Linked DNA regions of Homo sapiens. The protein of the gene in region 4 interacts with the protein of the main gene of each other region in a pairwise test. Each region holds a gene or a part of one and is shown on either strand. Other genes may lie near its edges. The genes, in order: SCAMP1, TMCO2, RNF186, PBX3, CMTM4, SFT2D2 and TVP23B.

What was found.
Region 1: the proteins of PBX3 (region 4) and SCAMP1 interact in a two-hybrid assay, tested with the Homo sapiens proteins (one large-scale study listed by BioGRID).
Region 2: the proteins of PBX3 (region 4) and TMCO2 interact in a two-hybrid assay, tested with the Homo sapiens proteins (one large-scale study listed by BioGRID).
Region 3: the proteins of PBX3 (region 4) and RNF186 interact in a two-hybrid assay, tested with the Homo sapiens proteins (one large-scale study listed by BioGRID).
Region 5: the proteins of PBX3 (region 4) and CMTM4 interact in a two-hybrid assay, tested with the Homo sapiens proteins (one large-scale study listed by BioGRID).
Region 6: the proteins of PBX3 (region 4) and SFT2D2 interact in a two-hybrid assay, tested with the Homo sapiens proteins (one large-scale study listed by BioGRID).
Region 7: the proteins of PBX3 (region 4) and TVP23B interact in a two-hybrid assay, tested with the Homo sapiens proteins (one large-scale study listed by BioGRID).

What each region holds. Positions count from the first base shown.
Region 1 is NC_000005.10:78,366,416-78,370,616, forward strand, and holds part of SCAMP1 (secretory carrier-associated membrane protein 1), read left to right. Parts: intron 1-4,201. UniProt on the Homo sapiens protein: Functions in post-Golgi recycling pathways. Acts as a recycling carrier to the cell surface.
Region 2 is NC_000001.11:40,246,349-40,251,164, reverse strand, and holds the start of TMCO2 (transmembrane and coiled-coil domain-containing protein 2), read right to left. Parts: upstream 3,229-4,816; 5' UTR 3,172-3,228; coding exon 2,935-3,171; intron 1-2,934.
Region 3 is NC_000001.11:19,813,529-19,816,416, reverse strand, and holds RNF186 (E3 ubiquitin-protein ligase RNF186), read left to right. Parts: upstream 1-1,133; 5' UTR 1,134-1,315; coding exon 1,316-1,999; 3' UTR 2,000-2,388; downstream 2,389-2,888. UniProt on the Homo sapiens protein: E3 ubiquitin protein ligase that is part of an apoptotic signaling pathway activated by endoplasmic reticulum stress.
Region 4 is NC_000009.12:125,914,176-125,918,376, reverse strand, and holds part of PBX3 (pre-B-cell leukemia transcription factor 3), read right to left. Parts: intron 2,692-4,201; coding exon 2,450-2,691; intron 1-2,449. UniProt on the Homo sapiens protein: Transcriptional activator that binds the sequence 5'-ATCAATCAA-3'.
Region 5 is NC_000016.10:66,630,357-66,634,557, forward strand, and holds part of CMTM4 (CKLF-like MARVEL transmembrane domain-containing protein 4), read right to left. Parts: intron 1-4,201. UniProt on the Homo sapiens protein: Acts as a backup for CMTM6 to regulate plasma membrane expression of PD-L1/CD274, an immune inhibitory ligand critical for immune tolerance to self and antitumor immunity. May protect PD-L1/CD274 from being polyubiquitinated and targeted for degradation.
Region 6 is NC_000001.11:168,228,533-168,232,733, forward strand, and holds part of SFT2D2 (vesicle transport protein SFT2B), read left to right. Parts: intron 1-2,981; coding exon 2,982-3,068; intron 3,069-3,301; coding exon 3,302-3,387; intron 3,388-4,201. UniProt on the Homo sapiens protein: May be involved in fusion of retrograde transport vesicles derived from an endocytic compartment with the Golgi complex.
Region 7 is NC_000017.11:18,787,346-18,791,546, reverse strand, and holds part of TVP23B (Golgi apparatus membrane protein TVP23 homolog B), read right to left. Parts: intron 2,513-4,201; exon of another isoform or gene 2,496-2,512; intron 2,195-2,495; coding exon 2,112-2,194; intron 652-2,111; coding exon 507-651; intron 1-506.

The DNA.
Region 1 (4,201 bases), on a different chromosome or scaffold from region 4:
TTACAGGTGTATGCCACCACACTTGGCCTCTGGGTCCTTTTTTTAATAGGGATATTAATCCCATTCTTGAGAGCAGAGCCCTGCTGACCTAGTCACCTCACAAAGTCTTCACCTTCTGATACCATCACGTTGGTGATAGGTTTCAGCATGTGATTTTTAAGGAAACAAACGTTCAGACCTTAGTTTTCATTTTGTAACATCAAGAATGTTATCCATCTTATTTCATTTACCTTGACAATGATACTTACAAGTTGATTTCACTCCTCCCTTATCTGTTTAAAATTTTGAGGCTGAGCTTGATAGCTCATGCTTGTAATCCCAGTGCTTTGGGAAGCCAAGGCAGGAGGATTGCTTGAACCCAAGAGTTTGAGACCAGCCTGGGCAACATAGTGAGACTTCCATCTCTACTAAAATTTAAAAGTTAGCTGGGTGTGGTGGTGCACACCTGTAATCTAAGCTACTTGGGAGGCTGAGGCGGGAGGGTGACAGAGTGAGACCCTGTCTCAAAAAAAAAAAAAAAAACCCAAAAAACAAACAAAAAAAAGATATAAAATTTTGAGTTTGGAGATTGGATAGCACTAGGAAAGTATTCTGAGGATTTCCTTTGTGATTGTCACATTTTGAAAACTGTCTTTTAACATTAATCTGGAACATAGTGGTTGCAGTTTGTGGGCCTGTGTTATTTTACGTTCATGTCAACTGCATGAATTCCTGCTCATTTTTCCTCATGTTAATGTTTTTAAAAAGCACATATTGAGCTGCTGTTATATTTCATCAACTTAAGATGCCATCCTTTGTAAGATGCACCATTATCTTATTTACCACTGTCTCACTTATCTGTTGCTATGTAACAATCCCAAAATATAATGGCTTAAAATAACAATTATTTGCTCACGATTCTGTTAATTGCGCTAGACTTAGCTGGGCAGGTTTTTTCTTTTTTTTAATGTTCTTTTCTGGAGTCACTAAAGTGGCTTCAGTCACCTGGTTTATGGTTTCAGATATCCTTACTCAAGTGCCTGCTGGTTACCTGGAGATGTCAGTGGGCACAGCAATTAGCTGTCTTTCATGTAGCCTCTCTACTAGTAATAAATGGGCTTTGTGCATAGTAGCAGCAGTGCTCCCAGAGGGCAAGAGCTGAATCTACAAGGCTTCTTGAATCATATGCTACTTCTGCTGTATTCTGTTGGTCAAAACAAGGCACAAGTTCAGCCTAGATTTTAAAAGGAGTGGCAAGCAATAGGCTCCACTTCTTGACTGGAGACAGACCTATGATCTGAAGATACACCTAGTATAAAATGGCGAGGTAGTCGTAGGATAACTTCACTAGACACTCCCATTCAAATAGGGAAAGAGTGGGAGGCGTGTAGCACCTGCTGATGCATAGCAGTTCTGAAATCTAGCCAGGCACGTGTTGTTAGGGTCCCCTACATTGGGGACAATGAATGTTTCTTGATTAGGGCCCAGTTCTGCTACCTCGTATTGGTTCCTTCACCTGTTATTTTCTTCTGCTTTTGGCTCCACCCTCTGAGAGGTCCTTTATTTATTTTTTTCTATAAGAATGAGCCCTTTTGGCAGCTGAGTAGCATTTTTGGCCTGCTTCTTGCCCATTGAAAATTGGGAGCCCAGAAGTTTCTATTAATTTTGAACTGTTTCTTTAGTCCAGGCTGTCACAACTCTCTTAACAGTTTCTTTTTAATCTTACCAGAGTTCAAACCATGCCTTAAAAACCACATTTGTCATTCTTTTTGAGACAATCTTCATTTAGGGTGAAGTGTCCGTTGCCATGGTCGGTATTCTTCAGATGTTTAGAAAACTTTTGTCTAGGTTGAGCATCTCATATGGCCAGGGGAAGGCTGCTGCCATAGGAGGCTGCTGTGCCACGTGACAAAACTAAGATTTGAACACAGTTTTATTTTGGCCCTGTAGCTTTACAGTCATATGAGATGATGGTGATTATGAAAATTTCGAAAGTAAACTGTTCTTGTGCTGATATTACCAAAAGTTTTTTTTGGACTATGATTAATATTTAATAGTGATAAATGCAGATCCAAATAATTTATTGGTTATTTCCTTAATATGAACCACCAGTGTGATATAGTTGCTGAAAAATATATATTGGCTTAGTGAAATTAGTGATCAGTTCCTTAAAATTAATAATCCTATAGTATTCTGTTCTGGTCTAATAGCTGGGTATTCTTCTCAATTGCAAGTGCATATTTAAAGAGTGGTTTGAAAATACTAGGATATGCCCAAAGAGGACAGTCAGAATGGTCATGGGACTGGAATCAAGTTCTAGGAAGAACAATTTAAGTTTCAATTACTCAGTGGATTTAGTCTACAGAGGGCTAAAGGGAAATAGGAGAGCTCCCATCAGATACTTAAAGTGTTCTTAGGTAAGTGAATAAACTTGTTATTTGTTGCTTTAGAAAAAGAATCTAAGGTTAACTGGCAAAGTTTACTTGAAGGTAAAGGTAAATTTTGTCCAAACAGACTTTTAAAAATCTGCTACCATGGCCTGACAATGCTCTTTTGGTAGGGCATTCTCCAGCACTTGCAGAAATTCAAGCAGAAGTTGGATAACCTACAGAGATGCCTAATTTCAATATTGTAATGTCTCAGGGAATAGGGAGACCCAAGGAGAGGGACAGAGAATGGGAACAACTGGTTGGTGGAATAGTCAGGACACACAATTTTTTTTTTTTTTTTGAGACAGGGTCTCTCTCTGTCTCCAAGGCTGGAGTGCAGTGGCGTGATCTCGGCTCACTGCAACCTCCACCACGCAGGTTCAAGCGATTTTCCTGCCTTAGCCTCCCGAGTAGCTGGGACTATAGGCGTGCACCGCCACACCTGGTTACTTTTTGTATTTTTAGTAGAGACGGGGTTTCACCATGTTGGCCAGGCTGGTCTCCAACTCCTGACCTCAGGTGATCTGCCTGCCTTGGCCTCCCAAAGTGCTGGGATTACAAGCGTGAGTCATCGTGCCCGGCCAGGACACATAACATTTATCAAGTAAGTTTGCAGTGTTATGGGCATGGTTTGTGGCACCCCAAGACAATTACAGTAGTAACATCAAGTATCACTGATCACAGATCACCATAGCAGACATAATGATAATGAAAAAGTTTGCAATATTGCGAATACTACCGTAGTGTGACGCTAGAGATGTGAAGTGAGCACATGCTGTTGGGAAAATGGTGCTGCGAGACTTGCTTGATGCAGGGTTGCCACAAACCTTCAATTTATTTTTTTAAAAAAGGCAATATCTGTGAAGTACAGTGAAACTAGGTATTCCTGCATTTTCTCTGTTCTAATATATCGACCATATTGGATATTGGAATTAAGTATGATCAGTTCAGCTAGAGAGGATGCTTTATGTTCAGAGACCAGCTATGCTCTGAGCCTCAGCTTCTGCTGAGGGAGCAGCCCTCATGGTAGCTTACACATTTGTGATCATGTCCTCTAGGGTGTGACTTTTGCCACCCTGGCCTCAGCTGACTGATCTTAACAAAGGTACTTGTCCAAAGCAGTGGAATAGCAGTTATCTCACTAGGCTTTTGAAGGCCATTTTCAAGAATTCCTGTCCTTCATTAGAGGTGTTTTTTAACTAGAAGGGATGTGCCATGTCATGAAGAATTTCAATCTCTGTGAAACCTGGCGTTCTTCTTTCTGTATATATCTTTAAAATATTCTCCTGCTCCCAGCATTTGGGGTGACCTGAGTGAGTCTGTCTGTTTCAACCAGAATTGCTAAACCGTAAGTGTAAAGTAACATTTTCTTGCCAAAAGGGTGATAGAGTTAAGCCTGTATTTAGACCTACAGTTTTTGGTGGTGTAGTGGAGTAATATACTTGCAAATATTGTAAGATGTTTTTAAATCACAAGGGAGAATTTTCCAACTTTCAGTGGGTGTGGGATATAAAAGGTGACATGGAGTTTGGTTAGATTTAACCTTGTAACAAGTCTCTGAGTTGTTCCTACTGAGGCAGTCTGTAATGTCCTGCAGCGTTTGACTTCATATGTGTAGACTGGTGTGGAAAACCCTGTTCTCCTTTCTGTGCAGAAGGCTTGCAGATCTATACCCAGAGAGCAATCCAGTAATCCCCTTCTCCTTGGCATTTGGCTTTGGGTGCTTTTCAGAATTAGTAATGTTTCTTTATCCATTGCTGGACACCTAAGTTGTTTCTGTTTTTTGTCTATTA
Region 2 (4,816 bases), on a different chromosome or scaffold from region 4:
TTAGCAAATTTTTTTTTTTTTTTTTTTTGAGATGGAGTTTCACTCTGTCACCCAGGCTGGAGTGCTGTGGCGCAATCTCAGCTTACTACAAGCTCCGCCTCCCAGGTTCACGCCATTCTCCTGCCTCAGCCTCCTGAGTAGTTGGGACTACAGGCGCCCACCACCACGCCCGGCTAATTTTTTGTATTTTTAATAGAGACGAGGTTTCACCGTGTTAGCCAGGATGTTCTCAATCTCCTGACCTCGTGATCCGCCCATCGTGGCCTCCCAAAATGCTGGGATTACAGGCGTAAGCCACCATGCCCGGCCTTAGCAAAATATTTTCACACCTATTTCATCTTTTGATTTTCACTGCAAACTGGAGAGGTAGGCAGGTCAGGCAGGATTATTATTTGCATTTAATCAAGATTGTAATAATAGATAACCATTTTCTGAATGTCTGGAAGTAACTTTGCCTTTGCATGATCTATTTATGCAGAAAAAACACAACTGGATAACTATATACCTTCTAGTTTGAACTCTGTCATTGTCCAAGGTTATATATTGGAAGTGGCAGAGCCAGGACAGGAATCCAGAAATTCACACTTCCAAGTACACTTTAGGACATAGTAGTCTGAAAAACTGGATTTCTTGGTCATGGAAAAGGTTTTTAAAATATACTAGGAGAGATCTGGGTACAATGGCACACACATATAGTCCCAGCTACTAGGGAGGGTAAGGTGGGAGGATCACCTGAGCCCAGGAGTAGTGTGCTATGATGGCACCTGTGAATGGCTACTGCACTTCAGCCTGGGCAAGATAGCCAGACCCTGTCTCTTAAAAAAATTAATGTATATATATATATATTTTATTTATATAAAATAAATTATAGGTGTGGACCACTGCATCCAGCACTTTGAGAGGCTGAGATGGGAGGATTGCATGAGGCCAGGAGTTAAAGACCAGCCTGAGCAACATAGTGAACGTAGCGAGACCCTGTCTCTACAAAAAAATTTTTAAAATTAGCCAAGCCTGGTGGTGCATGCCTATGGTTCCAACTGCTCAGGAGGCTGAGGCAGGAGGATCACCTGAGATCAGGAATTTGAGGCTGCAGTGAGCTATGATGACACCACTGCACTCCAGCCTGGGCGACAGAGCAAGACACTGTCTCTAAAACATAAAAAAAAAATAAAAAATAAAAATAAAGCATATGCTGGGCACGGTGGCTCATGCCTGTAATCCCAGCACTTTGGGAGGCCAAGGTGGGCGGATCACCTGAGGTCAGGAGTTCGAGACCAGCCTGGCCAACATGGTGAAACCCTGTCTCTACTTAAAATACAAAACATTAGCTGGGTGTGGTGGTATGCGCCTGTAATCCCAGCTACTCGGGAGGGTGAGGCAGGAGAATTGCTTGAACCTGGGAGGCAGAGGTTGCAGTGAGCCGAAATTGCACCATTGCACTCCAGACTAGGGGACAAGAGCAAGACTTCATCTCAAAATAAATAAATAAATAACAAAAGAATATGTATAGTAGGACAGATTCTTGCTAGGATAAGAAAAAAAATCATCTTGTTCCTTATTATAACAACTAGCACCACTTTTTTTTTTTTTGAGACACAGTCTTTGTCGCCCAGGCTGGAGTGCAGTGGCACGATCTTGGCTCACTGCAACCTCCACCTCCCGGGTTCAAGCAATTCTTCTGCCTCAGCCTCCTGAGTAGCTGGGACTACAGGCGCGTGCCACCACCACACCCGGCTAATTTTTGTATTTTAAGTAGAGATGGGGTTTCACTGTAGCACCACTTATTGAATATATGTGCTAAGATTTACACATACAATATCTTCTTTAATCCTCACAATACACATATATATGCGCATGCGCGTACACACACACACACACACACACACACACACACACACACACACACACATTCCTGTTCAAGATTTAGGTCAGTTGGTTTGCATTAAATGAGATTTTGGAGAAGAACTGAATTTCAAATCCTAAAAATTCGATTCAAACTCCAATTTTGCCAGCTCTTACAAACTATGTGAACTTGGGTGGGTAGCAATCAAGTTCTCTCATCTACAAAATGGAGCAAATAATCTCTCCCTGACTGTTATGCAGGATTGTGATGGTTTAAAATAGAAAGGCCCCGTGACCATGATTACTAAACAATAGTGACATATGAAAATAAGTGAATGCTAAAAAATGATCCAATAACAACTTCTCTCTGCATTTATCAAGTAAACTTGTCACTCTAAGAAAGCCGTTTTAAAAGCCTGTCACCTTAAGTTTCCACTGAACCTCAGTGCACCTCAGTTTCTTCACTTGTCATGTGAAAATAATCTCCATCCATTTCATGGAATTTTTGAGATTCTCAAAGCATTCAACTATATTGTATGTCAACTATTATTATTGGTGACTACACAGAAGTATGTAAAATCCTGTCTCTCACAATCCCAGCCAGTTAAATTCCTACTCCCCAAAGAGCTCCTATATACTTATGGAGCCTTATCTTGTCAAAACACAATAATGAACACATTGTGATGACTTAATACATATGCCTCCTTATCAGTTACAGAACAATGGCATAGTAAGAAAGGCCATACTCATGATCCTAGCTACTTTGGTGCCTATTGTATAAACATAGTAGCACTCAAAGATGAATAAGTGATCAAAAATTTTTGAGGGTAAGGCTGTCTTTTCAGGTTACCAACATGTTTGGTCTATTTTATTACAGAAGACAAGCCAAAGACCATTGTGAGAAAAGCATTTTTATGCCCAAAGCCTAATTGGTGGAGATTTTCAAGGATAACCTAGTTTTTGCCAACTTAAGAGACAAAGGTTCGCCTTTGCACATCTGCATGATCTTAAAACTGGTGGCAGCAATATGGGAGAGAACTAATCAAATTTCAATTTATAACTATATAAATGTTTGTAACAAAAGAGTATAACCTGAATTGACTGAATACTTCGTTTCCATAAGGCATATATTCCTATTCCCAATAAAATCAAGAAAGAAATCCTCAAGATGATTTGCACAGCTGGAGCAAGATTATCTAATAGTCCCAAACTTGTTTGCTGAGGTGCACTAGTCTCTCCCAAAAAACTTGCTTGTATCCAATTCCATACTGTGCTGAGAGAGAGAGACTCTAAGAGGTTGTCCCAGCTAGAAGATGAAGATGTTGACATTTTAATAAGCAGCAGCTCTAGGAACTACATGTGCAGAAGCTTCAGGAATCTAAATATGAGTTAGGGGGAGTAGTCTGGAGGCCTAGGTATTCCAGAGCCATTGTGAGCTGTGCTTTGTGATGTCACTGTTCCAAAGGTCAGCTTGCTTCCCACTCACCCAACCAATGAATCTTACTCAAAACCAACCAGGCACCGGCCTGGGTTTTCAGTTCATTCATATTGCTTTGTCTGATCTTTGGCTAGTTCTGGCTCTAGCATAGTGCTGTCCAGTACAACTTTTTGCAATAATGAAAATGTTCTTTATCTGCCATGTCCAATATGGTAACCACTAGTTACCTGAAATGTGAATAGTGCAGCAGAGATTGCATTTTACATTTTAACTAAATTTGGCTGGGCATGGTGGCTCACGCCTGTAATCCCAGCACTTTGGGAGGCTGAGGCAGGTGGATCACTTGAGCCCAGGAGTTCGAGACCAGCCTGGCCAACATGGTGAAATCTTGTCTCTACTAAAAATACAAAAATTAGCCTGACGTGGTGGTGCACACCTGTAGTCCCAGCTACTTGGGAGGCTGAAGCAGGAGAATCACTTGAACCTGGGAGGCAGAGGTTGCAGTGAGCTGATGTTGTGCTCCAGCCTTGGTGACAGAACGAGACTCCATCTAAAAAAAAAAAAAAAAAAGTTAAATAGCCACCTGTGGCTAGTGGCTTCTCTCTTGGTTAGTGTAGATCTACATTTCCAACAATTCAAATGGACAGCAGCTGTTGCAGCTGTTTTCACATAATAAAAAAAACTGAGTTGTATTGAGGTTGAATGGAAATGTGAGGAGATGGGATTTTTTATTTTTATTTTTTTGAGCTGGCGTGTCACTCTGTCGCCCAGGCTGGAGTGCAGTGGTGCGATCTCAGCTCACTGCAACCTATGCCTCCTAGGTTCAAGCGATTCTCCTGCCTCAGCCTCCTGAGTAGCTGGGATTACAGGCGCCCGCCACCACGCCTGGCTAATTTTTTGTATTTTTAGTAGAGATGGGGTTTCACCATTTTGGCCAGGCTGGTCTAGAATGCCTGACCTCAAGTGATCCACCTGCCCTGGCCTCCCAAAGTGCAGAGATTACAGGCATGAGCCACTGCACCCAGCAAGGAGGTAGGATATAAACAGGGCTTTTTTTTTTTTTTTTTTTTTTTTTTTTTTTTTTTTTTGAGGCGGGGTTTTGGTCTCGCCCTGTCTCCCAGGCTGGAGTGCAGTGGCGCAATCTTGGCTCACTGCAACCTCTGCCTCTGGGGTTCAAGCGATTCTCCTGGCTCAGCCTCCTGAGTAGCTGGGATTACAGGCATGTGCCACCACGCCTGGCTAATTTTTTTATTTTTAGTAGAGACGGGGCTTTACCATGTTGGTTAGGCTGGTCTCGAACTCCTGACCTCGTGATCCACCCGCCTAGGCCTCCCAAAGTGCTGGGATTACAGGCGTGAACCACCACACTCGGCCTTCAGTTTACCTTTAATAGTGGCATCCACCCACTCATCTGTCAGTCACTTCCACTCAGTAGTCTTCCATATCATGCCCTATTAGGACTTACTGACTTAGGCAATGCCTACTTTCAAGCCTTTGGTAAATTCTTTTTTTTTTTTTTTTTGAGACAGGGTCTCG
Region 3 (2,888 bases), on a different chromosome or scaffold from region 4:
GCCTGAATGAAACATTTGTTTGAGGGAGTGCACATGCCACCCCGCCATTTGCCCTTGAGGGCAAAGTAAGGAAATCACGTTTTCCTAACTGCTGTGTTACTAATATCTGCCTGTCTCACATGAGTCCTCTTAGCCTACGCCACCCGGCTGGGGCCAGTTGTGTCCAAATGAACCAATGAAATTGATTCAACCAGACCTTGGACGCTGGTAGATTCCACAAGGTCCTGCTCCATGGAAGGCCCCTTGGCAGGCAGCCAGCAGCCTACCCTGACCACACCCTGCCCTTGTTTCCCAGCCTTCCCTACAAGGCTGTATCAGGGTTCCGGGAAATGGGGGCTGGGGACCCCGGGCACAGGGCTTGGCTTAGAGTAGGCCCAAATAAATGGCAGCTGTTCTTAGTACTACTGGATACGCAGCATGCCTAGCACAAAACAGGACACCTGTGATTAGGCATGTGAAGTGTGCAGCAGGGCACCGATGGGAAGTTCATACACCCGTAACTGTGAATACAACAGCTGTGGCTCTAAGGAAATGAATACAGTAGCAGGTGCCAAACACCTGTGCGCTGTATGTGGTTTTGTTTTTCTGCGTTGGGTTGGGCTTTGTCCTCCTTCCACTCACTTTTCTTACCTCTCCCCTCCTCTTTCCAAGGCCACCTGCCTGTAAATGTGCTCCAAGTGCAAACAAACTTTTTTCCACTCATCCTGACATCCAAAAGTTTGTGTCTGAGAAAGCAGTGTCCACCAATCCACCTATGTCCGACTCATAGGGCTGTCTGTTTATTGTGCAGATTTGTAGATGCCAGTGAGCCAAGATCGGGCCACTGCACTCCAACCTGAGAGAACGAGACTCCGTCTCAAAAAAAAAAAAAAAAGTTAAATAAAAAAAATTAATAAAAGGTTCAGGGACCTGGGAAGTGGGGGTGAGAGAGTTGGATTCTGCTGCCTCCTAAAGCTTGAGCCACAGTTCTGTGGGCACCCACCAGGTACCTGGCCCCAACAGGAAAGTCCTGATTCACTAGACCCTTGCCCACTTTGCCCTCCTATCAGGCAATTCAAAGTCTCCAGACCCGCAAGTTACTGATTAACCCTAGGTTTTGAGAAAATAAATAATAATAACTGAAGGGACGACGTAAGCCAAGAAACAAGCTGGGCAGCTCTGGGAGAGAGGAGTGTCAGACAGCTGTTGTCAACAGGCACCTGGCCAGAGTGAAAAGGAGGGGCAGATTCCATCCAAGTCCCAGCGGCGCCAGCTGACACTCTCTGCCAATGCCCAGGTGCTGAGCGACAGTGTCCCACCGGTCCCTGTGCCCAGAATGGCCTGCACCAAGACCCTGCAACAGTCCCAGCCCATCTCCGCAGGAGCCACCACAACCACCACCGCTGTGGCCCCTGCTGGGGGTCATTCTGGCTCCACAGAATGTGACCTGGAGTGTCTGGTGTGCCGGGAGCCCTACAGCTGTCCCCGGTTGCCCAAGCTGCTGGCCTGCCAGCATGCCTTCTGCGCCATCTGCCTGAAGCTCCTGCTGTGCGTGCAGGACAACACCTGGTCCATCACCTGCCCGCTGTGCCGCAAGGTCACCGCCGTCCCCGGGGGCCTCATCTGCAGCCTGCGCGACCATGAGGCGGTGGTGGGGCAGCTGGCCCAGCCATGCACAGAGGTATCGCTCTGTCCTCAGGGGCTGGTGGATCCTGCTGACTTGGCAGCAGGACACCCCAGCTTGGTGGGAGAGGATGGACAGGATGAAGTAAGTGCAAACCACGTGGCAGCCCGGCGCCTGGCCGCGCACCTACTCCTGCTGGCCTTGCTCATTATCCTCATCGGGCCCTTCATCTACCCGGGTGTCTTACGATGGGTGCTCACCTTCATCATCGCCCTGGCCCTGCTGATGTCCACCCTCTTCTGCTGTCTCCCCAGCACCCGGGGCAGCTGCTGGCCCTCCTCCAGGACTCTCTTCTGCAGAGAGCAGAAACACAGCCACATCTCTTCCATTGCCTGAGTGCCCTCTGATGAGGCTATCCCTGCAGCCCTTTCTGCCCTTGGGCCCCCGGACTTCCACAATGAACAGGGTAAGGGGTTACGGACTAAGACTGGCTCCTTTGGGAAATCACATGCCAGCGGGACTTGCAAGCCACAACCGAGATGGCCAGCCTGGGTCAAGAATTACACGCTTGGATGACAGGCTTGCACTTGCCCTTGGGATAGCATAGCTAAAACTGTTGGTGGCTAGGGGAGCAGACACAAACTACTTGAACATGACAAGATGGGGGAAGCTCCTGTTCCTCTTATTCCAATGTTCTTGGTTTTTCTTTATATAACTTGATGAAAGTATTGCAGTATTGATGCCATTGTAGAATAGAACTGGAATTCCATTCTTTTTGCAATTTATGTAGCTGGTTTTGTTTTCTTGTTTTCCTTTGTTTTTTTGGGTTTGGGGCAGCAGTTGGTTCACATTTCCCTTTGTTACACATTTTCCCTCCTGGGAGCTTGGAGTCCACGGGGAGGTCCCACTGCGCTTCCTCTAACACTGAGCATCTCATGCCCAGCCTAGCCTCGGCAAGTGTCCTGGTTGTTTAGGTCTCCCATGGAGTTGACCCTAGGGTTGGGGAGACAAAATGTGTGTGAAGGGATGGTGTTTCTGAAGCTGCAGGGGGAGTCCCACATTTAGCTGGCAGAGATGGGGAGGGGTGGAGAGGGCAGGGTTTGGGAATTGCTCCCAGTATCCTCACTAGGAGTTCCCCACTCCGTGCCACTAGGCCCTGACTTAGCAGCAAATCTCGGGGTTACAAGGACTGCAGTCCACATACAGTGGGGCCAGCTGCCCATCTATTGCACAGTCCCACACGGTAGAACTAGATCTTTATGGATGTTACCGTCTTTGTTATTGC
Region 4 (4,201 bases):
AAAAAAACCCTGGTGATTTGATGCTGGTATAAGCTGGGGCTAAAGTTACATAAAATCTCATGGAAAATTTTGTAGGATATTTCTAAAACAGTGAGACTCAGGACCTTGTCATTGACTGACACCAGCTTCACACAACTTCCACCAGAGTGTATGGAGAAAGTAAGGAGGCAGGTGTAAAGACACATGGCAAGAGGTAGTAAGGAATCACCTTAATTCCTCAGCCAAAAAACTCAGGCCATTTGGCCTCTAATATTATATCTCTTTCCATGCAAGGTGACTGGTAGTGTTTATCTAGTAAGTAGTTATAGTTATTTTAGCATAAAGTTATACAATTAGGATTATACTACAAATAAGAGTCATTTTCTACTGTTTATGCTCAGGGGCAACCTTTTCAACCATGACTTATTTTGTTTACTCTCAATTATTCATATGTCAAATCAGAAAGTGGGATTTTTACATACATACACACGATAATTTTTCCAAAATTCTTATTTGTACATTTTCCACAAGAAGTTATTCTTACAAATGAGACTAGACATACAATTTTAGATCTCAGAAAATCCTATTCCAAAAATAGAAAACACCTTATAATATTAATTTACACTACTTTTTAACTTAAAGCTATACAAATTTTTCTACTCTTCCTCAAAACACACTCACCTCTGGGATAGGATTCAGCATTTGCTTAATACCATTGTATCCAGAATATTAGAAAAGGCAATGTGAAAAAACAACGATATATATAATTGAAACTATACAGGGAATGTAGAGGGGAAAAAATCAGTATTAAAACTGATCAGGGGTTGCCAGGGATCAGTGGGAAGGAAAGAATAAAAGAAGAGAGGGATGAATAGCACAGAGGATCTTTAGGGCAGTGAAAATACTCTGCATGACCCTATAATGATGGGTACATGCCATCATAAATTTATCCAAATCCATAGAGTGCACAATACCAAGAGTGAACCCTAATGTAAACTATGGATTTTGGGTGATAATGATGTGTCAATGTAGGTTAATCAATTTTAACAAATGAACCCCTCTGGTGGGGGATGCTGATAATGGGAGAGACTATGCATGTGTGGGGACAGGAGGTATATGTGATATCTCTCTTCTTTCCTCTCAAATTGGTCTGTGAACTTAAAACTCCTCTTTAAAAGAGTCTTTAAAATACACACAAACACACACAAAACTCACCAGGACTCCCATTTCACACTAAAGTGTGTGGACTTTAAAAAGTACTTGCCTACATAGTGAAATACTCATGGGTGAAATTATAGGATGTCTAAGACTTGCTTTAAAATACTCTTACCAAATTGGGGCTGGGTACACAAAATAAGAGTGGCAAAATGTTGATAACTGTTTATCTGGGTAAAAAGTATCTAGCTGATTCTGATTCCTTATTTGGGGTTGAACTCTATGAAATTACCATATTCAACTGTTTTTGGCCTCAAAACTTAGCAATTTCATAGGGTTCAATCTAATACTATTCTCATTATTTTTGTGTACATGTATTATAAAATGTTTCATAATACGTTTTTAAAATTACCTTCCAAATGACAAATCTTATCAAATGAGAATTCCTCAAACTTGGCAGCTTTTCAGCATTAAACTAACAACTAAAATATATGTAAAAAGACCCACCAATATTTTACTTTATTACATTAAATCTAAGACTCTCTTGTTTTTCTCCACATTTTAACATCTCTGAAATGTGAAAGCATTTTATAATCAGTAATATTTTATAGTTAAACTAGCAGTATTAATTTTTTCTTGGTGTTACATAAAGATGCAACTTAAAGTTATCTGAGATTCAGTATGGTTAATATAATTGCTGAGAACCAGATTTTTAACCCATATTCTCTTTCTAATAAGGAATTTAGCACATAATGCCTTGCCTAGCATTCCCTGTCCTGGGGTACCCATAATTATCTTGGGAGGTCTCATACTCAGAGAAACAGGCCGGAACCTGCTTACTTGGTGAAGTTCCCTATAGTCTGGCACAATCCATAAGAATTAATTCCCAGGAGGATTCTGGAGCTCACAGCATAGGAGGGAAAAGCTCACTGTGCAATGCTTCCCTTCAAAAGTGATTAAAGCTTATGAACAAGGCTAGTGCATAAATGTTAATTATACAGAGCTTTGAAGAGCACCAAGTGGTGAGGTGAGAGGGAAGAATGACTGCAGGTGTGGTAATAAGGGCACGTGAATGTGCGGAATGAATAAAACTAAAACAAGTAGATGGGATAAAATAGGTAGCGCTCCTCCTCCAAAATCTCAAAGGGTCTTCCTTTCATGAATCCAACAATTCACTTGGATTTTTGCACTGACCTTATTTATTTTGTAATTTGTGTTAACACCTACCCCTCACAGCCCTCAGAATTGGTTAGCATGGTCTAATAGAAGAGCAACAGAGGGTTTGTGTAGGACTATGAGAGTGGCGGCTGCTGACCTGTTCATATTTCTCCAGTTCTGTGTGATAGATTTGTCTGATCTGGGTCAATTTGGCTCTGTAATCTGAGTGTTCAATAGAGTTATCTGAAGAACCTCCAGAGGCTGCCGCGGCTGCAGCTGCTGCCGCCGATCCCCCACCTTTCTCAGGACCTGAAACCCCTTCTGCCAAAAGCATATTGTCCAGTCTCATTAGCTGGGGATCGGGAGGGTCCTCCTCCTGGGCTCCTCTGATGCTGAGACCTTCAAGGAAAGAGAGAGAGAGACAGAGAGAGAAGAAGCGAGAAACAGAGGACAAATAGTGTGAGTATTTTGTTTATTCGAGAAAATGATCAAACAACATCAGTGTACTACAATTCATGCTGAGAACTTCATTGTTCACATTTGATCGGTAAGTTTGAATAAGTATGAAAATTATTTTTAAGATAGTGTTTACATGCACCCTAGAATTTTAAATACCCCCCCACCGCCTCAATTTACCACAGACTAGATCCTTAGAAAAAGGTAACCCTGGCTTCCTGGAATATTTTAATCATTCAAGCTTCCCAGATTTAGATAATTTAAGCATAAAATGGGAAGAGGGTAAAAAATTGAATGTTTTAAGAAAGAAAGAAAATAATTACAGGGATATAAAACAACTCATCCAAAGGTGGTTATTCTGTCTCTCTCTGTACAGTTGGAGAAACAGAATTAAAATTCCCATAAAATAGTTAATTCACAAGCTGTAATCAAAAATTGAAAAATAAACAACATTAGATGAGCTTTTCCATCGTGTGATTTCAGAAGAGGAATACACACATTATGAGGTAACTGGCTATACTTAAATATATATATATTATTAAATGAATATTGTTAAGCAATTGCCAGCAAACTATAAAACGAGGATACTAAATACAGTATTAAAAATGTGCCATTGACATGGCAATACAGTGCTGGGCACAGTAGTCTCAATCTAATTTTGCTTTTAAATCAAGAACTTCCTAAGTGATGCCCAGTCAGCAACCTCTTCTGAGTACTATAGATCATAGCTGACAATTCATAGGTTTAATCAGGTCACACAGGCTTTCTGCCAAAATGTTTTCAACAACACAGAAGACAAAGTTTTAAAATAATTATCATGGTATAAAAAGCATTGGAGTCATGACAGCTCAAAATCAGCATTTTCATTAATGTGTAACATAATCTAAAACATCCCAGCCCAATTAACCTCTGTAAATCTGCTTCAAAGCAGGTTCCCTACACTAGTTACAAGGCTTCTTGGGGAAGAGGGGAAAAGGAAGTTGGCACCTTGCTTGTTTGTATTTGGATTCTCTTTTGAGTCTGTGCCTGTTGTTGTTTATCCACAGTGGTACACACTTTGTGTCTAGTGTAACTTACATGACATAACATCTATAAGCTGCCAAGTACTCAACTGATCACCAACTCTGATTTTATATGCTAACCTAAAGCTACCGTCAATTCTTTTAAGAACAGATTTCATTCCTAGATGCCCTGAATTACATCCATGGCATGACAGAGCTCTTGGTTGCCTTAACACAAATGCAAAACTTTAATTTCTTCCCCAAAACACTTTAAAGCTGTCACTTTCATTTAAAATTATACTTCAGAATAATTTCAACTGGATAATAAAACTAACTCACCATAATTTAAAATTTTATCTGTTGTCTATTCAGAGGCAAATAAGGTTTGAAAACTATAATATACTAAGACAATATATTCATTTAGGAGAGCAAAAAGATAACTCATAAAATGC
Region 5 (4,201 bases), on a different chromosome or scaffold from region 4:
CCTCTCTTTCCACGGTCTCCCTCTGATGCCGAGCCGAAGCTGGACTGTACTGCTGCCATCTGGGCTCAATGCAACCTCCCTGCCTGATTCTCCTGCCTCAGCCTGCCGAGTGCCTGGGATTGCAGGCGCGCGCCGCCACGCCTGACTGGTTTTCGTATTTTTTGGTGGAGACGGGGTTTTGCTGTGTTGGCCGGGCTGGTCTCCAGCTCCTAACCGCGAGTGATCCGCCAGCCTCGGCCTCCCGAGGTGCCGGGATTGCAGACGGAGTCTCGTTCACTCAGTGCTCAATGGTGCCCAGGCTGGAGTGCAGTGGCGTGATCTCGGCTCGCTACAACCTCCACCTCCCAGCCGCCAGCCTTGGCCTCCCAAAGTGCTGAGATTGCAGCCTCTGCCCGGCCGCCCATCGTCTGGGATGTGAGGAGCCCCTCTGCCTGGCTGCCCAGTCTGGAAAGTGAGGAGCATCTCTGCCCGGCCGCCATCCCATCTAGGAAGTGAGGAGCGTCTCTGCCCGGCCGCCCATCGTCTGAGATGTGGGGAGCGCCTCTGCCCCGCCGCCCCGTCTGGGATGTGAGGAGCGCCTCTGCCTGGCCGCGACCCCATCTGGGAGGTGAGGAGCGTCTCTGCCCAGCTGCCCCGTCTGAGAAGTGAGGAGACCCTCCGCCCGGCGGCCGCCCCATCTGAGAAGTGAGGAGCCCCTCCGCCCGGCGGCCACCCCATCTGAGAAGTGAGGAGCCCCTCCACCCAGCAGCCACCCCATCTGGGAAGTGAGGAGCGTCTCTGCCCGGCAGCCACCCCGTCCGGGAGGGAGGTGGGGGTCAGCCCCCGCCCGGCCAGCCGCCCTGTCCGGGAGGGAGGTGGGGGGTCAGCCCCCCGCCCGGCCAGCCGCCCCGTCCAGGAGGGAGGTGGGGGGTCAGCCCCCCGCCCGGCCAGCCGCCCGGTCCGGGAGGGAGGTGGGGGGTCAGCCCCCGCCCGGCCAGCCGCCCCGTCCGGGAGGTGAGGGGCGCCTCTGCCCGGCCGCCCCTACTGGGAAGTGAGGAGCCCCTCTGCCCGGCCACCACCCCGTCAGGGAGGTGTACCCAACAGCTCATTGAGAACGGGCCATGATGACAATGGCAGTGTTGTGGAATAGAAAAGGGGGAAAGGTGGGGAAAAGACTGAGAAATCGGATGGTTGCTGTGTCTGTGTAGAAAGAAGTAGACTTGGGAGACTTTTCATTTTGTTCTGTACTAAGAAAAATTCTTCTGCCTTGGGATCCTGTTGATCTATGACCTTACCCCCAACCCTGTGCTCTCTGAAACATGTGCTGTGTCCACTCAGGGTTAAATGGATTAAGGGCGGTGCAAGATGTGCTTTGTTAAACAGATGCTTGAAGGCAACATGCTCCTTAAGAGTCATCACCACTCCCTAATCTCAAGTACCCAGGGACACAAACACTGCGGAAGGCCACAGGGTCCTCTGCGTAGGAAAACCAGAGACCTTTGTTCACTTGTGTATCTGCTGACCTTCCCTCCACTATTGTCCTATGACCCTGCCAAATCCCCCTCTGCGAGAAACACCCAAGAATGATCAATAAAAAAATAAAATAAAATAAAATAAAATAAAAAAACACAAGACGAGTCACGCCCTAGGGCTCAGGGCTCAGCCAGTGGCCCCTGTGGGTAACTGCCAACTGTTCTCAACCCACCACAGCACCCAGCCTGGGTTCTGAGATAGAGGCCTAAGAGGCCTCCAGGGCCACAGAGCCCACTAAGAAAGGGTGACCAAAGCGGAAGAAGAAAAACAGGACAGTGTGGGGGCCCAGGATGCAAGGTGAGAGAGTATGGCAGGAAGGACAGAGTGCCCCATAGCAGACACCACCAGGATGTTGAGTGGGGTGAGAACCCAAGAGCAACCAGAGGATCTAGGAACACGGAGGCCCCGTCCCAGGCTCCTGACCAGGGGACTTTCAATGCTGCCAGACTGGAGTGGGCTGAAGATGAATTGCGGAAGACCACCACATAGTCAGGATGGTGGACTGGGGGAAGGGGCAGGGGGTGTGTTTAGCTGGAAAATACACATGGGAAGCTTTTGGGGTGTTGACAATCTCCTATTTATTGACCCAGGTGGTGGCTGTATATTAAACTCCATATTTACTTTCATAATTTTTTCAGAATTTGACAATAAGAGATTAGAAAAGTGAGATTAGGAGAGGGGGAAGTAGAGAAGGCAAGTGCAGACCTCCTCTTCTGGGAAGTGGGGCTGAGCTGGCCCTGGGCTCTGGGGCCAGTTGAGTGGGAGCCACTGGCAGGCTTTTGGGATGGGGGAGGATCAGACACGCCTTTTAGATAGCGCCACATCCCAGAAGGGAAGGGGAGGAAAGGAGGAGCCCCGTGGCACTAATCAAAGTAAACAGGGGTGGAACATGTGAGTGTATGAGCTCCTAGGACACAGAGAAAAACAAATATCGCCAGGCACGGTGGGTCACGCCTGTAATCCCAGCACTTTGGGAGGCTGAGGCGGGCAGGTCACCTGAGGTTGGGAGTCCAAGACCAGTCTGACCAACATGGAGAAACCCCCTCTCTACTAAAAATACAAAAAAATTAGCCGGGTGTGGTGGCACATGCCTGTAATCCCAGCTACTCGGGAGGCTGAGGCAGGAGAATCGTTTGAACCTGGGAGGTGGAGGTTGCGTTGAGCCAAGATTGTGCCACTGCATTCCAGCCTGGGCAACAAGAGCGAAACTCCGTTTCAAAATATATATATATAAATATATATATATATAAATATATATATATAAATATATATATATATCAAAGTCCCACAATCCATCCAAAAATAAACCCAAACCAAAAACTTGACATTAACAGAATCATTCAAATTCCATCAAATTATGCTTGTAGAAAATTATGCACTGTCCTCCTTATTTATCATTTCTCATCCATATTTATGTCAACCTGGGCTCCTGGAATGACCTGTGTTTTTAAATCTATACCAATCACACCCTATTTTAACCATCAGGCTGGCTCTGCTGGAGACAAAAATACTCCCAATACTCCCACCACCTTGTTACAGAAACACAACACAGCCAAGGCCAACCCTTCTGTAGCGAGTTGATGAGCTGAGATCGGCCGTGAGGAGCTCACTTTTTCACCCCTCTCAGAGAACACTGGACATGAGCTGCCTTTAATAGATACCATCTTGGCAGGGTGCAGTGGCTCACGCCTGTAACCTCAGCACTTTGGGAGGCTGAGGTGGGCAGATCACCTAAGATCAGGAGTTGGAGAACAGTCTGGCCAACGTGGCGAAACCTCGTCTCTATTAAAAATACAAAAATTAGCTGGGCACGGTGGCACATGCCTGTAATCCCAGCTACTCAGGAGGCTGAGACAGGAAAATCACTTGAACCCGGGAGGCAAAGGTTGCAGTGAGCCGAGATCGCACCACTGCACTCCAGCCTGGGCGACAGAGCAAGACCCCATCTCAAAAAAAAAAAAAAAAGGTACCATCTCCTCAAGTTCATGTAAGGTATATGCCCTTTTGTTGGGCAAACACACAGCCTTTATCTGCTCCAAAAGAGTGGAAAGTCTAGAACGGATCCCAAAGAACAGGATCGTGTTCTCAAGTGACCACATCACCAACACCCAACCACAGGCCCAGGCCACCACCACCCAGAGGAAAAGAACGAGTATCAACTTCCCTGGGGAGAGATGCACCTCAACATGACCGGTGACATGGTAGTGTGGTAGTCAACAAGTGGAAAATCTTTCATGATTAAAATAGAAAAAGCAGAATTCCAGAAAGCTCACTAAATAGGTATTTCTGGGCTGGGTGTGGTGGCTCACACCTGTAATCCCAGCACTTTGGGAGGCTGAGGTGGGTGGATCACCTGAGGTCAGGTGTTTGAAACCAGCCTGGCCAAGATGGTGAAACCCCATCTCTACTAAAAATACAAAAATTAGCTGGGCATGGTGGTACATGCCCATAATCTCAGCTACTAGGGAGGGTGAGGCAGGAGAATCGCTTGAACCCGGGAGGCGGAGGTTTCATTGAGCCGAGATCACGCCACTGCACTCCAGCCTGGGCAACAGAGCAAGACTCTGTCTCAAAAAAACAAAAAAAAAAACCCAAAAACAACAAAAAGTAGGTATTTCTGGGGATAAACGCTGGTATAAATTAGTAAGAAATCTGAAGCATGAAGTCTTTTAACAGGTTAATGGCTGTC
Region 6 (4,201 bases), on a different chromosome or scaffold from region 4:
ACCTTAAGTCTTTAGTTTCAATGGACTTCTTTCTGAAAGTATAGGTTTTATGTTTTTTATAAAGGATTCTGGGGACAAGAAAGGTATGAATAGTATCTAATTTTAAAGTGTGGAAATGAAGCAGTATTTCTTTCTTACCTTCTTCTGGTTACCAATCCTGTTTTTCTGAACAATTCTTAGTATTATTCTTGGCAAGAGCCCCTCTTCTCTCCACATCACAGAGTGAAAGGGACCTTTGTGAATAACTGCCAGTCAGACTGCCTGTGAGCGCATTGCCTACAAATTCCATCCAGGTACCATTTTAGCTACTCTAATTTCCAAAAACAATATGCTAGCACAGCTTCCAGCAGTCATGAATTTACAGACATTTTATGAGTTTGTTTTCATAATTTGGCAAAAAGAAGTGTTTTGCTTTCACTGAGTCCAGTTATGAGAAGTGGAACAACAGCTTCCTCCTTCCCTGACCAAGTGTGAATGTAAAAGAACTTGCAACCACATGTAATGGAAAAATACAGTGGTGAAATATGCCCCCCACCCCTTCCATTTTGGCAAACAGAGTAACATTTGGATGGATTCAGCTTGAGAGACTTGGATATGGAGTGTCACTTTCCTTTCTGAAGGTAGAAACCAGAAACACATTCTTGGCTGAACTGCTTCCTATTGTGGTTATTTTGATTTGTGTGAGGGCTGGAATCTCACTGAGACTGAGCGGAGTCTCGCTCTGTCGCCCAGGCTGGAGTGCAGTGGCTCGATCTCGGCTCACTGCAGGCTCCGCCTCCCGGGTTCAGGCCATTCTCTGGAATCTCACTGTTCTGTTGAGGTTATTTAGCAATCTAGATGTCAAAGCCAATTCAAATTTCATTCTTAACCTTATGGTTTATCCTCTTCAAATAGAAAGGTTGAATCTTTTAAAATTATCCGTGTTGATGCCATGTGGTGCTCAGGGAACCATCCAGTCCAATCTTACTACCACTTTTTTCTTGCTGCTGACAAGCCAGTCCAATCCTACTACCATGCTTCTTCCTGTGAACAAGCCAGGCCAATCCTACTACCGTTCTTCTTCCTACAGACAAGCCATGCCAATCCCACTACCACTCTTCTTCCTACGAACAAGCCAGGCCAATCCTACTACCGCTCTTTTCTTCCCACCTGCAGCTAGTTCTTTTCGCACCTTGGCAAGGTAAGTTCTTTGGTTTTTGCATGACTAGGAAGAGTGGTAGCTTCTCATTTTATTCTGTCCTTGGCGAGAGCTTAAATGCTTTAGTCCGAAGTAGCCTGACTAGATTGTCTGGGGCCTTGTAAAGCCTGCTACCAGAGCATCATCACATGGCTCATTTTGGAGTCCAAGGGGGTTTGGGAAACCAGACTCCTCCAGGAGAGGTTTACCTCAGCGTAAAACCAGGTGGCTCATCTGTCAGATCTTAACACTGGGCCCCTGCTGTCTGTTATCATCCCTAATTTGTGCCTTCTGTGCAGGGTCATGAGCCCAGTTCCATATATATGAATGTATAACCTGACCTAAATACCTTTCTCCTGAGTGGAGAGTAAGGTAGTCTTTGGCAATACGTGCCACACCTGAGGGGAGCCTCTCATCCTTCTTTTCAAGCTTCTGGTTTGACGGGAACTCTGGAGACAGGGTTGAAAACAGATCCCTGAGCTGGGGGTAGTCAAGGCTGACGGAGTTGCCAGTCTAATGACTCTTGACTTTCTGCCACTACCTACCTTCTTCCATCAGCTGGGTGGAAATATAGTAGGAAACTTTGACCACATTGCTAGATGGAGACTATGCTGGCCATACAAGGTGAGCCCTGTGTGAATATACATGGCCTAGCTGCCCTGTGTGGTGTTGGTCTCTTACGGCAGCTGTCTTTGTCCAGCTTGGAACAACTGTTCCCACTTGCATCAGGTGGACAGACTGGTAGGGTCACCAGTGCAAAAACTTTGATGTCATTTTTTTCCGAGACAGAGTTACACTCTTGTTGCCCAGGCTGGAGTACAATGTATGATCTCGGCTCACTGCAACCTCCACCTCCCAGGTTCAAGCAATTCTCCTGCCTCAGCCTTCCAAGTAGCAGGGATTACAGGCATGCACCACCACACCTGGCTAATTTTTTGTATTTTTAGTAGAGACAAGGTTTCGCCATGTTGGTCAGGCTGGTCTCGAACTCCTGACCTCAGGTGATGCGCCCACCTTGGTCTCCCAAGGTGCTGGGATTACAGGCATGAGCCACTGTGCCTGGCTGTTGTCATTTTTGACATGGGAAAAGAACCACTGGGAGCTACTCACAGGCTCTCCTGTTTCAGTAGTGTTTTTGGAACTCCTGGCTTCCCCTGAACTTTGCTCCAGGGAGGGATTAATCATGATGGCAAAGACTCAGGATGTAACAGGACAGTAATTAATTAACCAGGATCTGTCTCCCACTTGGATGAGTTGGCTGATGCCAGCATCCTGTAAGTACAATATCTGAACCAAGAGTGAATAATGTGGGTGAGAGTTGATGTAGGAGACGATGACCAGTGGAGCAGCTGCTTGAGTGCCGTCCCCTCATCTTTTCCTTATTTCCTGGGACCCTGCCTGGTGGAGGATCCCAGGTGGACTTGTGAGTCCCTGGTGGACGCATGCCTTTCCAGGTGTGGTCTTCATCCTGCCTGGGTTGTAGGAAGGCTCTGGGCTACTCTAGGATTGGCTGTCTTGCCTTCCTGTTCTTGAAATGGGTTGTGCTTGAGGCAAGGAGTTTCTACCTCTGAAGATGTTCAGCTGGAGGCACAGCTGTCAGCTGCTAGAGAGGAGATTCATGTCTGCATAATAACTTTACAGCTCTGATAAAGTCTGGATTTGATGACTTACATCGCCTGAGTGTGTAGGATTCTGTGCTCCTTGCCTTCCCTAATACAACTTAACACTTTCTAGATTTAGTTATGTGCTTGCTTTGTTTTTAGTAAATGTGTGTGTATATGTATTTTTTTTTTTTCAATTTTAGGTTGTTGAGGCATCTTCATTAAGCTGGAGTACCAGGATAAAAGGCTTCATTGCGTGTTTTGCTATAGGAATTCTCTGCTCACTGCTGGTAAGATTTCCCTTCCTCCTCTGTCTTTTCCTTCTACCTGTCTTTGCTATATATTCCCCCTTTTGTCCACCTCCTTTCCCCTTTTGCCCTTCACTAAAATGCATGGATGAGAGGAGAGGGGAATAAGGGAGGTGGGGAGGGAAACGGACTCCTCAGGGCTTCCTCTGGGAGCTCTGCTTGTGTGGCCGGGTGGGAGGGTTGCTCATGTGCAAACACTGTACTTTAAATTCCAGGGTACTGTTCTGCTGTGGGTGCCCAGGAAGGGACTACACCTCTTCGCAGTGTTTTATACCTTTGGTAATATCGCATCAATTGGGAGGTAACTGTTTTTTAAAAATCCAATTTTAGCCAATCATTAGATGGGAAAATGGATGTTGGTTGCCCTTGAGGGAGGTGAAAGAGGAGGCTCCAGTAGTTGTAAGGAATTTGGAGAGAAGTAGTTAGAATATCTCACATTCATATCTTATTATTTGAAAACATTTTATATCTTAGTTTGAAACACCTGGGAGAAAGCAGCAAATGTTTTGCCATCGTGATTTTACATGTACAGAAACTGCGACACAAAGCAGTTCAGTGATTTCTCCAGGGTTTACAACCCAGTCCTCCTGCTTGCTGTATTCTTACTGCTGTCAGAGATTGAGTTGATGGTTTTCAAAGGGCTCATCACTCCAGTGGCCATAAGGGAAACTGGTTTTTATTTAGTGTCAGACCTTCCCAGACCTGAGTAGCAGCTCATGTGGGCAGGGCATCTGAGCGCTTCCTGGAGGTGGGCAGCCCATTCTGCATGTTGTGGATGCACACATTTTCCAGGTCAAGCTCATTCACACTGATGCTTCAGTCACACTGGTGCCAACAACTCCACCCTCTCCAACTGGGAGCACTGGCCTGGCCTCTACCTGAATGACCTGCAGGAACCTGAGCTCAGTCATCTTGTTTCCCCCTTTTCCCTTCCCTTGTGTCTCTGTAAATGGCTTCAGAGTCCTGGGGGTCCAAGTCTCCCCTCCATGATTCCTCACCAGGGCTTGATGTAACCCTGTCTTACTGGCTCCTTCCTCTTTGTCCCCATGGCTGTTTGTGCTTCACTGACTGACTTGCATGCTCAATGGGTAAGCATTGATCACACTCTGTGCTGG
Region 7 (4,201 bases), on a different chromosome or scaffold from region 4:
GACAAATATTCAGTGGGTGGCAAGCTTGTCTCTGGTTGAGAAACACTGCCTTAAAGCATCCATAGGAGCCTTTTCAAAAGGTAGGTATTTTTTAGGTATTTGTGGACAAACTACACTGGGGCCTTATCTAGAAATTATATACAACACACCTACAGGTAAGCCTGAAGCAAAACCCATGGTATGGATTAGAAGCAACATTGTAGGGTCTATGGTTGCTAGTCACTTTTGTTTGTTTATTTGACTTTAAAGCTGATGTAGGTTAGAATATGGCACAGAAAAATCAGCAGCACAGTAACCTGCATGTCTCATCTTGTATTGTCAAAGGGAAAAAATGAAAAAAAAAAAAAAAAAAAAAAAAACTACATGCAATTTGATATATCTAGCACTTCAACACAGATGAGGTTTGAAGTAACAAAAGATTAACAATAATGCAAAATGCTAACTCATATTTTTATACATCATTTTCATATTAAATATAATTTTAAAATAAAAACAATCAAAATTACCTTCACTGCCCAAAAGTCACACGACAACAACAAGATAATTGTCACCATACAGGTAATAAAGCTGCTGCTGAGCAACCCACAGAGAAGATAGACGATGATTGCACTGACTCGAAAGAATAAGTGGAAAAACGATGCTACTGGATGTCTGAAAACCAAAACACAATGAAAGAAATGCAATTACATTTTACTACAGGTACTAGCAAATGTAGAGAAAAATGTTTTAGCCATCGTGTAACTGTGAAGAGTTTTGTCAAAATAAAAGAGGTGACTTTAGTAGGATGAAGCAAACCTCCTAGCTCTCTTTTTCTTAAGCCCCACTATTTGACTAGGCCCTGTAGTTACAGAAAATACACTATGCACAGATGACTTTAACACCTCATTGAATATAAACTTTCACAAAATAGATAATAAAGAATTTTATCTCTCTTGGAGAAATAAGGAAACTGTATCTTAGAATTTGAATCCTATTTTCAAATCACACCAAAAGAATTCCTTAGCCCTCAGAAATCACTCAGACATTAAGACAAAGTTATCAGGTAGTTTGTTTCTTTCTTTCTTTTCTTTTTTTTTTTTTTTTGAGACGGAGTCTCGCTCCGTCGCCCAGGCTGGAGTTTGGTGGCACAATCTCGGCTCACTGCAAACTTCACCTCCTGGGTTCACGCCATTGTCCTGCCTCAGCCTCCCAAGTAGCTGGGACTACAGGCGCCTGCCACCACGCCCGGCTAATTTTTTGTATTTTTAGTAGAGATGGGGTTTCACCATGTTAGCCAGGATGATCTCAATCTCCTGACCTCGTGATCCACCTGCCTCGGCCTCCCAAAGTGCTGGGATTACAGGCATGAGCCATCGTGCCCAGCCTGTTTCTTGTTTTTTAATAGCTTTTTTGAGATATAATTCACATATCATACAATTTACTTATTTAAGGTAAACAATCTAATGGTTTTTAGTACATTCACAGATTTGTACAACCATCACTCCAATTTTACAACTTTTCATTACCCCAGACAGAATCTTTGTACCCACTGGCAGTCATTCCCCATTTACCTTCAAACCCCTCAGCTTCTAGCAACAGCTAATCTATCTTCTGTCTCTACAGATTTGCCTATTCTGGACATTTCATATAAATGAAATCATACAATATGTGGTCTTTTGTGACTGGCATGAAAGATGAAAGAAAAGTAAAAGACAGCATTTTAGCAGGGTTCAAGTAGAATTTGCTTTCAGTAAGTGAATTTCTTTAGAGAGAATTAAATTTAGAATAGAAATGTTATGTGATTTTGAAATGTGCACAATAAATCAAAATGTAATGTATCTATAGAAACTATATAAAGAAATGGTACATTCTTGGAAAATAGCACAGAATTAAAAACACAGGTGTTCAAATAATTGGATTTGCTGATTTTAAAACTCAGTATTAAGTATGCCAATTATTCACAAGAAAATCTGAAATGTCATCTTTGTCGTACACTAAACGTCAAATTAGCAACATGCAGTATTCACAAGCACATTGAAACAACTCTGCCTTGACTCCCATCAGCTAGCACTGACATACATACAGAACAGCACTGGACACTAACACAGCTCATGCAACTTCTCTCCTCCTACCTGATTTTGGCTTTTCTTGGTCTATTAGTCGTCTCCTCTTCCGCATCAAACAGTGAAACATCTTCAGTGTCATCATTACTATCCTGGTAGGAAAAATAAATGGTCAAGAAGCAAAACAAAATTCAGTGTTTACACAGCCACTGCAATGCAAAGCTGCATACTCATCAAAATAGAAGATAAAATAATGTGGTTACAGCATCAGGAATTCAAAACCTAGGAAAAGGACACATGCAGATCCTCCACCCGCCTCCTCAAATCATCTGGCAAAAAACCCAGAGAATAATCGAAGTCTCAGCTCCTCCATCCCTGCCCCTAGGCTGCACCATCTGAGAAAACTCTAGGGTGCAGATGAGGCTACTACAACTTAACACCTGTCCTCCTCACCTGTTCTCTCCCAAGTCACAGAGCAAGCCGAGGCTACTGGGGATAATCTCAAGGTTTCTGGCTCCTTCACAAAATCATCTGACTGCATCCTTAGTTCCATGACCCCTTCTCACAACTCCTCCTCTTCTTATCCAAGGCTAAACCAATTATTTGTGCTCAGAATAACTTCTTTTCATGCCTCCTCGGGGATTTGTTTCATCATTTTCCCCTGTATTTACACTTTCTTCTATCTTCAAGTCTATCTATTGGATCTTTCTTTTTTGTTGTTGTTGAAATGGAGTTTTGCTCATCACCCAGGCTGGACTGCAATGGCACGATCTTGGCTCACTGCAACCTCCGCCTCCCGGGTTCAAACGATTCTCCTGCTTCAGCCTTCCAAGTTGTTGGGATTACAGGCGTGTGCCACCACACCCAGCTAATTTTCGTATTTTTAGTTGAGACGGGGTTTCACCATGTTGGCCAGGCTGGTCTTGAACTCCTGACCTCAGGTGATCTGTCCGCCTCAGCCTCCCAAAGTGCTGGGATTACAGGCATGAGCCACCACGCCCGGCCTCTATTGAATCTTTCTAATCAGCATATGCATATAAACTTCTTCAAGGCCACTTATTAGGCAAAAAAAGATTTTTTTAAGAACCCTGATCCTGAATCTCCCCTTCAATCCTCTACCTTCCCAAAGCATTGCTTCCTTTTACAACCTTAGGCTTTTTTTTTTTTTTTTTTTGAGATGGAGTCTTGCTCTGTCGCTCAGGCTGGAGTGCAGTGGCGTGGCCTCAACTCACTGCAACCTCTGCCTCCTGGGTTCAAGTGATTCTCCTGCCTCACCTTCCCAAGTAGCTGGGACTACAGGCGCGTGCCACCATGCCTGGCTAATTTTTTGTATTTTTTTTTGTAGAGACAGGTTTCACCGTGTTAACCAGGAGATTTCATGACCTTGTGATCCAGCCGCCTCGGCCTCCCATTGCTGGGATTACAGGCGTGAGCCACCATGCCCGGCCCCATAACCTTAGGCTTCTAAGAGTGGTTCACGCCTCAATTCACTGCAATTCCCCTCAACTACAACAAACCTGATCCTGTTCCTCTCCTAGTGGCACTCACCAGCCTCCCTGCCTTTATCCCTCTCTATTCCAGCCTCTCCTTTACATTACCCAGAGCAATCCTCCCAATATGGAAATCACACCATGTCACTCTACTGCTCAAATTTTTCAATGGCATCCCTACAAGTATAGGATAAAATTTAACTCCTTCACATAAAGCATAGAAGATCACAGAATCTAATGCCCCCTACTTGCTTCTGACACTGTCTTCATTGAGCACTGTTGAGCACTGAAGCAATACTGTTACTACATGGTCTCTAAGAACACTACAATCTCTCTCCCATCTCCTGCCTTTCACATGTTGTCTCAGAAAACTCTTCCCTTCCTCATGCCCTGCTCACCACCAAATACCAAATCATCCTTCAAGTTTTTTAGCTCAAATACTGAAATAGCTGAAAACCTGTCTCTGAAATCCCCATGTTCCCACAGCACTTGGACGAATCTCCATTTGAACAATCATCTCAGAGTATTCTTATTGCACATCTACCCGCTCCTACCTCCATATAGATTAAGCTGCTGGAGGACCTAGAAGACAAGGTTTTTTTTTTTTTTTTTGAGACAGAGTCTTGCTCTGTCGCCCAGGCTGGAGTACAGTGGTATGGTCTCAGCTTA